Linked DNA regions of Homo sapiens: all the other regions are reported to be linked to region 2. The links are microRNA targets in miRTarBase. Many come from high-throughput screens and were not tested one by one. Region 2 holds a microRNA gene; each other region holds the end of a gene's coding sequence.

What was found. The annotated mature microRNA hsa-miR-4447 reads GGUGGGGGCUGUUGUUU and lies in region 2 at 1,523-1,539, shown strand. An mRNA with a match to its seed (bases 2 to 7 or 8) in the 3' UTR can be bound and repressed. Matches are read on the target gene's strand: a 7mer-m8 pairs with bases 2 to 8, a 7mer-A1 pairs with bases 2 to 7 and ends in A, and an 8mer does both.
Region 1: miRTarBase lists SPATA6 as a target of hsa-miR-4447. Seed matches in the 3' UTR shown: 7mer-m8 at 1,471-1,477.
Region 3: miRTarBase lists FSTL4 as a target of hsa-miR-4447. Seed matches in the 3' UTR shown: 7mer-A1 at 1,252-1,258 and 7mer-m8 at 2,632-2,638.

The regions. Positions count from the first base shown.
Region 1 is chr1:48,296,264-48,299,435 of GRCh38, forward strand. It overlaps SPATA6 (spermatogenesis associated 6), which reads right to left. Exons shown (of 13, transcript NM_019073.4): 13 at 1-2,630. The coding sequence ends at 2,450. Among named protein-coding and RNA genes, the nearest start is that of SLC5A9, 75 kb to the left of the region's middle.
Region 2 is chr3:116,848,656-116,851,827 of GRCh38, reverse strand. It overlaps MIR4447 (microRNA 4447), which reads left to right and starts at 1,461; the gene lies at 1,461-1,551. RefSeq lists enhancers at 1,769-2,404, 2,405-3,039.
Region 3 is chr5:133,196,464-133,199,635 of GRCh38, reverse strand. It overlaps FSTL4 (follistatin like 4), which reads left to right. Exons shown (of 16, transcript NM_015082.2): 16 at 1-3,172. The coding sequence ends at 541. Among named protein-coding and RNA genes, the nearest start is that of CTB-49A3.2, 9.8 kb to the left of the region's middle. RefSeq lists an enhancer at 1-135.

The DNA of each region.
Region 1 (3,172 bases), not on the chromosome of region 2:
CATAAGCACTCATAGTAGTAGTTACAGCAACATGGACCACTCTTTCCTCCTAGGGGATAGAAGATAATCAGACACTTAGCAAAGATGCTATTAGTATCTGGGAATTTGCCCCCAACTTTCAGAAAGACACTAAATTTAATCCATAGGAAAACATCTTTCAGAGTATTAGTTTCTAAAGTTTCCCTTTCAGCCCTACTTTTTGCAGCCTTTTTCACAGCCAATGGCAGATACAGGTGCAATAAGTAATTTCTGTGGTACTTATTCACTTGGGAGATTTTGGTGATAGTAAAACATTTTCTTTGAAAGTCATGTTTGTTCTTTTCACCAAACAGCAACTCTTAAAAGAATTTTCACTTATTTTTCCATGGAAAAACACTGAGGATATAATTTTTTTAAAAGAGCATTATTCAATGTTGACCTTCAAAAGCTGATTGTAAAATACCTCATCATATAATCTACAGCCAGAGAGTAACTCAGCAATTGTGTAGTCCAGCATTTCTACAACCTAGGTATCCACATGTACCTTAGGATGACATTGGCAGGTAGTGTGAGGAGCTAGGGGAATGGGGGGTGGTGGCAAGAATAACAAATAGTGGTACATGCTAAATTTAGTTTAGAAAATTCTGGGTTAATTCGATAAATATTTAAGGAACATCAATTACATGCCAGGCTGTCTACTAGATGCAGAGTAAGACAGATTTATACCAGAATTTTCTTAAAGCCTCGAACAAGCTACTGTTCACAATGAGCACAGTGACCATATATCCTAATTTGCTGTAGACAGCCCCAGTTTACAGGCGCTATTCCAGCATTAATATCATCTCTTTTTACCTCTATAATCCTACATATGACTCTCTAAGAGGTGTGTGTGTGTGTGTGTGTGTGTGTGTGTGTGTGTGTATGTGTGTAGCAAACAGATTTTCCTAAACTTAGATGGCCAATTACATACTTATACCTACATTCCTACGATTATCTCCTAAAACAGTGATCTTGGTCCACAGAACATAGTTTGGGGTCTACTACATTCTTATCATTTGATAGCTGAGGAAACAAAGGATCTGAGAATTAAATAGACTCAGCTAGAAAACGGCAGACATGGGATACTAAAGCCTAGGACTCCTGGCTCATAGAGATAGCTCTAATGCCCTTTCTGATATATCACAGACTGTGATACTAAAGCACCCTTAACATGATGTTAACAAGTTCTACTACAAAAATAAGTCAGCAAGTTTCACATTTTAATTTCATTTTAAAGGAAGTTCATTTTGTTCTTTTTCAATCATAACTGTAAAATTAATCAAAAACAGAGTCAATGAGAAAATATTATCTTTTAGGCAACTCTTCAAGACTATAAGCCCAGTTCACTTATTCCTACACTCTCCTTTCCCTCCCCTCACTCTCTATTAAATATAAAGTAGCTGATTTCTTTATGTCTTTATAGTATCATTGGCTTCACAGGTGTGTGCTGGGGTGGGGGAGGAGAAGTTAATTCTATCCATCAATCAACAACATTTTCAGTGTCTACCACAAAGCGTTCTGCTATAATATTTTACTCACATTGTGGTTCCAAGTGTTTTTTTTTTTAAAGTGAGGATACTATAATAGTGCCTTGGGCCATATGGTACTTACACAAATTCCAAGCAGTCAAATTACAATATAATTCCATTATTATTTTTAGGTTTCTATAAGCTTACTAACAGAGGCCATTTTCTGATTCTGGTTGCACCAAAAGGTATGGCCCTAGAAAAAAAATCATGCAAAGAATTTTATCTTTAAAAATTAGTTATTCAAATTTTTGATCATCCATGGCACTGATATTTCTAGCTAACTGCTATGCATTTTAAGCAACTTACACAGTTCTTCCAGAGAAAAAGGAGTGAATGATCATATAGTCTTTAAAAAGAAAGCCTATGAGCTAAGAAATAGAATAGCCTGTTCTGAAAAAGGAAAAAGTAGAAAATGTTAGTGAAAACAGGGTTTAAACCCTTAGGAAATTCATTTCTGTATAGGATATCATTTTGTTCATCACCAAGAAAAGGTAGTCAATATTAATTAAATCTTACACAGGCAAGATAACCAGTTAAGTAGATGAGAAGAAAATTGCAAGGTGAGTAAGGCAAAAAAAACATTTCTAGAAAGGAACTATTCTTGGATTTGCAGATGGAATATGAGGTGTACATGTAACAGAATATCCTTGTCACATATTGGAAGTTGTGATTGTGTGACAGAGCTCTAATGTTTGTAACACAGCAGACTCTTCTGTAATAATTATTTTAAAAGGCTTGCCTATGATAATTTACCATTTGAAGTAATGAACTTATTCAAGTATAACTATTGTACTTAGTTATAATCCCATTTTTTTTAAAAAAAGGAATACAGATATTGATCACATCAAACATTTTCATTGAGAAATTGACACGGACACTAATGAGGTTTATCATGGATGGTCTCAGAAGCTTTCCTGTGTATGTGAAGCAGAACTACAGGCCTTTTTGTATAAGTTCCTGTACATCTTGTCCATGCTGTTCTCAAAGATGGGTCGGTGGGATTTTCCCTTATAAGAGGCTGCCCTGTTGGACCAGTATTCACCGTCATCCAAATGGAAAGTGCCACGTGGCTGCTGACATGAGCTATAAAAAGGGATATAAAAGGTTCAAAACAATAATGAAACAAAATTAGAGATAGTACTATGTAAATCAAATATTTATTGAGTACTCTATGGCTATTTAATTCTCTGCTGGGGCTGTGAAAAATAAAACAGAGTAAGGCCTGTGCTTTCAAAGAGGGACATTTTAAAAGGGGAGGCAGAAGTATCTGTGTAAAACTGTTATAAAACAGTAAAATGAAAATTTTGTGTTAGAGTGAAAAAGGAATTCAGAGAACAGACACAGGTACAGCATAATAAAAGCAGAACATAATAAAAGCAGTTCTTATACTGGCCTGGTATGGCCAGTATAAGAATGCACAGCCCAAGGCACAGTGGCTCACGCCTATAATCCCAGCACTTTGGGAGGCTGAGACGAGCAAATCACCTGAGGTCGGGAGTTCGAGACTAGCCAGACCAACATGGAGAAACCCCATATCTACTAAAAAATACAAAATTAGCTGAGGATGGTGGCGCTTGCCTATAATCCCAGCTACTCGGGAGGCTGAGGAAGAAGAATCACTTGAA
Region 2 (3,172 bases):
TAAAGAAAATGTCTTGGTACAGGGGTGGCTTGTATGTCAGAGTTGTATTGAAAAGTTGCATGAAAGTGGAATAGTGTAAAGTCAATCACATTTTAAATAACCTGGGAAAGTTTGTTACTCAGTCCTACACCAAAACAAGCTATAAAAATTCAGATTTCTGGTTTTTTTAAAAAGCTAATGTAATGAGAAAGGATAGAGGAGAAATTCCATGTTACAGTTATTCACAACCTCCCTTTTTCATTCATTTCTAACAAATTATTGAAGAAATTATAGAATGTCTGAAGTCAATTTGAAGTTAAATTATAACTTCTCTGTTGACTTGGTTAACATGGTATTTTTATTTTCTTTTTGTACTGATTTTCCTTTTGTGCCTGTCTATATTGCATACATATTTCTCTAATTACTTGTACAAAATACTTGGATGAAATTCTCTGTAGAATGAGATATAAATTAATATAAACAATATTTATGTAGGAAATAACAAGAAAAAAGTAGTAGCTACAAAAGTAGGCCCTGGTGAATATTTACGGCAGTTATTAAAAACCTCATGATTTTTTAGTTAATCTTCCTAAGAAATTTCATTTATATTATCTATGGTTATTTTGAGTTTCTCTCTCCTCTTTTTTTTCTTTTTTTTTTTTTTTTTTTGGTCTCTCTGTTTGGGTATTGTGTTAGTCTCTTCTCACACTTCTATAAAGACATACCTGAAACTGGGTAATTTATAAAGAAAAGAGGTTTAATTGGCTCATGGCTCTACAGGCTGTACAGACTTCTGCTTCTGGGGAGGCCTCAGGAAACTTACAATCATGGTGGAAGGCAAAGGGGAAGCAAGCACATCTTATGTGGCCAGCAGGAGGAAGAAGATAGTGGGGAGGTGCTACAGACGTTTTAACAAGCAGGTCTGGGGAGAACTCTATCAGAAGACACCTCTAGGGAAATAGTGCTAAGCCGTTAGAAACGGCCCCATGATCCAATCACCTCCTACTAGACCCCCTCCTCCAATACTGGAGATTACAATTTCACATGAGAATTGGGCAGGTACTCAAACTCAAACCATATCAGGGGTATAACTTTCATGTTATAAGCCTTCCTTAATATCTGCTAATCCTTTGCTATGCATTTATATTTAGGAACAAGTTATCACAATTCTACAATTCTGACTGGAGATGGCTTAGCATGGCAGGCTTCACTGTAGAGTGGTCAGCTGGAGAGAGACCTCCCTGCTATGGGCATCCACAGGTCTTTTCTTTTAAACAGTGATTTCCCTCAAAAAGGAAGCCTCAGATCTATTGCCTGGAATATATAAGGCAAATGATTGGGTTTCTCAGAGATACAACTAGGTGAATAAAGGGAAGGGGAAGACCTCATAATTCAAGATGCAGATCTCACAGTTCGGTGTGTAATATTCATTTTATTCATCTGATTTTAATATTTCATTCCCATCCTCAGCTTTTTCTGGTGTTCTAGAGCATGGTTTCTCATCATTTGCACTACTGATACTTGGGGTCAGATAATTGTTTGTGGTGGGGGCTGTTGTTTGCATTGTAGGATGTTAGAAGAATCCTTCTTGGACTTCTACCCACTAGATGCCAGAAACACCCCACCACAAGTTGGGACAACCAAAAATGTCTTCATGGCATATTGCCAAATATCCCTTGGGAAGCAAAATTGAACATGGTTGAGACCTACTGTTCTAAAGTAATCCCTGTTATTCAATCTCTCCAATGTTGAATAAGAGGCTTGTCCTCTTCTGGCATGTGTCTATTTGTGTATGAGGGAGACCAGAAGAGGAGTGCAGTTATCATACTATGCAGGAGTTGATGCAGGATTCTAACCACATACCAGCTTTCAACCAATCTTTACATCTTTATCACCATTGAATCTTTAGATGTATCTGTTGTCTATAAGTCCAGAAGCTTTCCTGAATTCTGTGGTGGAAATCAACTGGTTTCTTCGTTTCTATAATGAATAATTTTACTCTTCTTTTCTCTTTAAACTCAGTTAGGAATTGTCTGTCTGCTTCCAGCTTCCAAAATTTTCTTGATGCATCTTAACTGCAGTTATTTGGTCTCTTGTTTTTTCTGTGAACCAAAAAGTATCTGAGACAGGTCTCAATCAATTTAGAAAGTTTACTTTGCCAAGGTTAAGGACACGCCCATGACACAGCCTCAGGAGGTGCTGACATGTGCCCAAGGTGGTTGACGTACACCTTGCCTTTATACGTTTTAAGGAGACATAATACATCAAGCAATCTATGTGAGATTTACATTGGTTCAATCTGGAAGAGTGGAGACAGCTGGAAGTGGGGGTGAGGTAGAGATGGGGATTCCAAATCATAGCTGGATTCAAAGATATTCTGATTGGTAATTTGCTGAAAGAGCTATTATAAATAGAAAGGAATGGCTGGGCTAGAATAAGGGGTTGTGGAGACCAAGGTTTTATCATGCAGATGAAGCCTCTAAGTAGCAGGCTTCAGAGAGAAAAGAATGTAAATGTTTCTTATCACATTTAAAGTCTGTGTTGATGTTAATGCTGATTGGCTTTTCCTGAATTCCAAAAGGGAGGAGGATATAATGAGGCATGTCTGACCCCCTCTTCCATCATGGCCTGTATTAGTTTTTCACGTTAACTCTGGAATGCCCTTGACGAGAGGAGGGGTCCATTTAGATGATTGAGGAGACTTAGAATTTTATTTTTGGTTTATAGTTCTCTTTGTCTTTAGGCATTGAAGGATTTTTTTTTTTCTTTTAACTTCTTTACTCTAATTTTTGTAAATTTTCAGAAGGAAAAGTTATAAATGTGTGTTCTGTTTATCATGCTTCTGAGGGAATTTTGAATATTAAAAGCAAATCTTTAAAAAAGTGTTTAGCCTGTGTTTATTGCAGGCTACTTTGGATTATGTCCTCAGAATGTGGAAAGTACGTTTTATTTTTGCTAGAGCATTATTACTAGCTCAAGAACATCATGACTAGTACAAGTTCATTAGTGTGTGCACAAGCAAAGGTATAGCTTCTGAAGATGGGTCTGGCAACAACTTACATCTAAGTTTTGAGAATAACCAGCACACTGCTAAAGCCATCGTTAGTGCTCAATTTATTCGGCTTGATTGGTTAACTGATTCATTTGATCCTTACAATTACTCTGTGAAGCAGAACACACAAACATTGGAATC
Region 3 (3,172 bases), not on the chromosome of region 2:
CAGCCCCGCCTCTGCTGCCCGACAGCTGCTCGTTGACAGTGTCACAGACTCTGTGCTTGGCCCCAATGGTGATGTAACAGGCACCCCACACACATCCCCCGACGGGCGCTTCATAGTCAGTGCTGCAGCTGACAGCCCCTGGCTGCACGTGCAGGAGATCACAGTGCGGGGCGAGATCCAGACCCTGTATGACCTGCAAATAAACTCGGGCATCTCAGACTTGGCCTTCCAGCGCTCCTTCACTGAAAGCAATCAATACAACATCTACGCGGCTCTGCACACGGAGCCGGACCTGCTGTTCCTGGAGCTGTCCACGGGGAAGGTGGGCATGCTGAAGAACTTAAAGGAGCCACCCGCAGGGCCAGCTCAGCCCTGGGGGGGTACCCACAGAATCATGAGGGACAGTGGGCTGTTTGGACAGTACCTCCTCACACCAGCCCGAGAGTCACTGTTCCTCATCAATGGGAGACAAAACACGCTGCGGTGTGAGGTGTCAGGTATAAAGGGGGGGACCACAGTGGTGTGGGTGGGTGAGGTATGAAGGGCCCAGAGCAGAGCCCTGGGCCAAGGAACACCCCCTAGTCCTGACACTGCAGCCTCAAGCAGGTACGCTGTACATTTTTACAGACAAAAGCAAAAACCTGTACTCGCTTTGTGGTTCAACACTGGTCTCCTTGCAAGTTTCCTAGTATAAGGTATGCGCTGCTACCAAGATTGGGGTTTTTTCGTTAGGAAGTATGATTTATGCCTTGAGCTACGATGAGAACATATGCTGCTGTGTAAAGGGATCATTTCTGTGCCAAGCTGCACACCGAGTGACCTGGGGACATCATGGAACCAAGGGATCCTGCTCTCCAAGCAGACACCTCTGTCAGTTGCCTTCACATAGTCATTGTCCCTTACTGCCAGACCCAGCCAGACTTTGCCCTGACGGAGTGGCCCGGAAGCAGAGGCCGACCAGGAGCAGGGGCCTCCCTCCCGAACTGAAAGCCCATCCGTCCTCGCGTGGGACCGCATCTTCTCCCTCGCAGCTGCTTCTTGCTTTTCTTTCCATTTGACTTGCTGTAAGCCTGAGGGAGAGCCAACAAGACTTACTGCATCTTGGGGGATGGGGAAATCACTCACTTTATTTTGGAAATTTTTGATTAAAAAAAAATTTTATAATCTCAAATGCTAGTAAGCAGAAAGATGCTCTCCGAGGTCCAACTATATCCTTCCCTGCCTTAGGCCGAGTCTCGGGGGTGGTCACAACCCCACATCCCACAGCCAGAAAGAACAATGGTCATCTGAGAATACTGGCCCTGTCGACTATTGCCACCCTGCTTCTCCAAGAGCAGACCAGGCCACCTCATCCGTAAGGACTCGGTTCTGTGTTGGGACCCCAAAAAACCAGAACAAGTTCTGTGTGCCTCCTTTCAGCACAGAAGGGAGACATCTCATTAGTCAGGTCTGGTACCCCAGATTCAGGGCAGACTGGGCTTGCCTGGCAAGGTATGGGTGGCCTCCAGGCTCAATGCAGAAACCCCAAGGACACGAGTGGGGCCAGGTGAGTTCCTGAAGCTATACCTTTTCAAAACAGATTTTGTTTTCCTACCTGTGGCCCATCCACTCCTCTCTGGTACCCCATCCCCGCATCAGCACTGCAGAGAGAACACATTTCGGCGAGGGTTTTCTTACCCACATTCCCCAATCAATACACACACACTGCAGAACCCAGAACAGAAGGCCACAGGCTGGCACTACTGCATTCTCCTTATGTGTCTCAGGCTGTGGTGACTCTCACATGGGCATCGAAGAAGTACAACCCACATAGCCCTCTGGAGACCGCCTAGATCAGAGACTCAGCAAAAACAGGCTCGCCTTCCCTCTCCCACATATGAGTGGAACTTACATGTGTCCTGGTTTGAATGATCATTTTGCAAGCCACACGGGTTGGGAGAGGTGGTCTCACCACAGACGTCTTTGCTAATTTGGCCACCTTCACCTACTGACATGACCAGGATTTTCCTTTGCCATTAAGGAATGAACTCTTTCAAGGAGAGGAAACCCTAGACTCTGTGTCACTCTCAACACACACAGCTCCTTTCACTCCTGCCTGACTGCCAAGCCACCTGCATCCCCCGCCCCAGATCTCATGAGATCAATCACTTGTATGTCTCACGCAACTTGGTCCACCAAACGCCTGTCCCCTGTAACTCCTAGGGGTGCGCCTAGACAGGTACGTCTGTTTTTTATTTTAAAAGATATGCTATGTAGATATAAGTTGAGGAAGCTCACCTCAAAAGCCTAGAATGCAGTTTCACAGTAGCTGGGATGCATGGATGACCCATCTCACCCCTTTTTTTTTCCTGCCTCAATATCTTGATATGTTATGTTTACTCCCAATCTCCCATTTTTACCACTAAAATTCTCCAACTTTCATAAACTTTTTTTTGGAAAAATTTCCATTGTATCAGCCCCTGACAGAAAAAGGATCTCTGAGCCTAAAGGAGGAAAAGTCCCACCAACTACCAGACCAGAACACGAGCCCCTCTGGGCAGCAGGATTCCTAAGTCAAAGACCAGTTTGACCCAAACTGGCCTTTTAAAATAATCAGGAGTGACAGAGTCAACTTCTGCAGCACCTGCTTCTCCCCCACTGTCCCTTCCATCTTGGAATGTGTCTAAAAAAGCATAGCTGCCCTTTGCTGTCCTCAGAGTGCATTTCCTGGAGACGGCAGGCTTAGGTCTCACTGACAGCATGCCAGACACAACTGAATCGAAGCAGGCCTGAAGCCTAGGTCAGGGTTTCAGGAGTCCAGCCCCAGGAGGCAAAGTCACCAATGCAGGGAGGTAAATGCCTTTTGGCAGGAAAACCAATAGAGTTGGTTGGGTGGGGAGTCAGGGGTGGGAGGAGAAGGAGGAAGAGGAGGAAGGCCAGACTGGCCTGCCCTTTCTCCCATACTTCACCCCAGCAGAGGTTCATGGGACACAGTTGGAAAGCCACTGGGAGGAAATGCCTCACTACAGGGGGGCCTCCTGTAGCAAGCCCAGCCGGTAATCCTCCTAATGAACCCACAAGGTCAATTCACAACTGATATCTTAGCTATTAAAGAAGTACTGACTTTACCAAAAGAATCATCAAGAAAGCTATTTATATAAACCCCCTCAGTCATTTTGAAATAAAATTAATT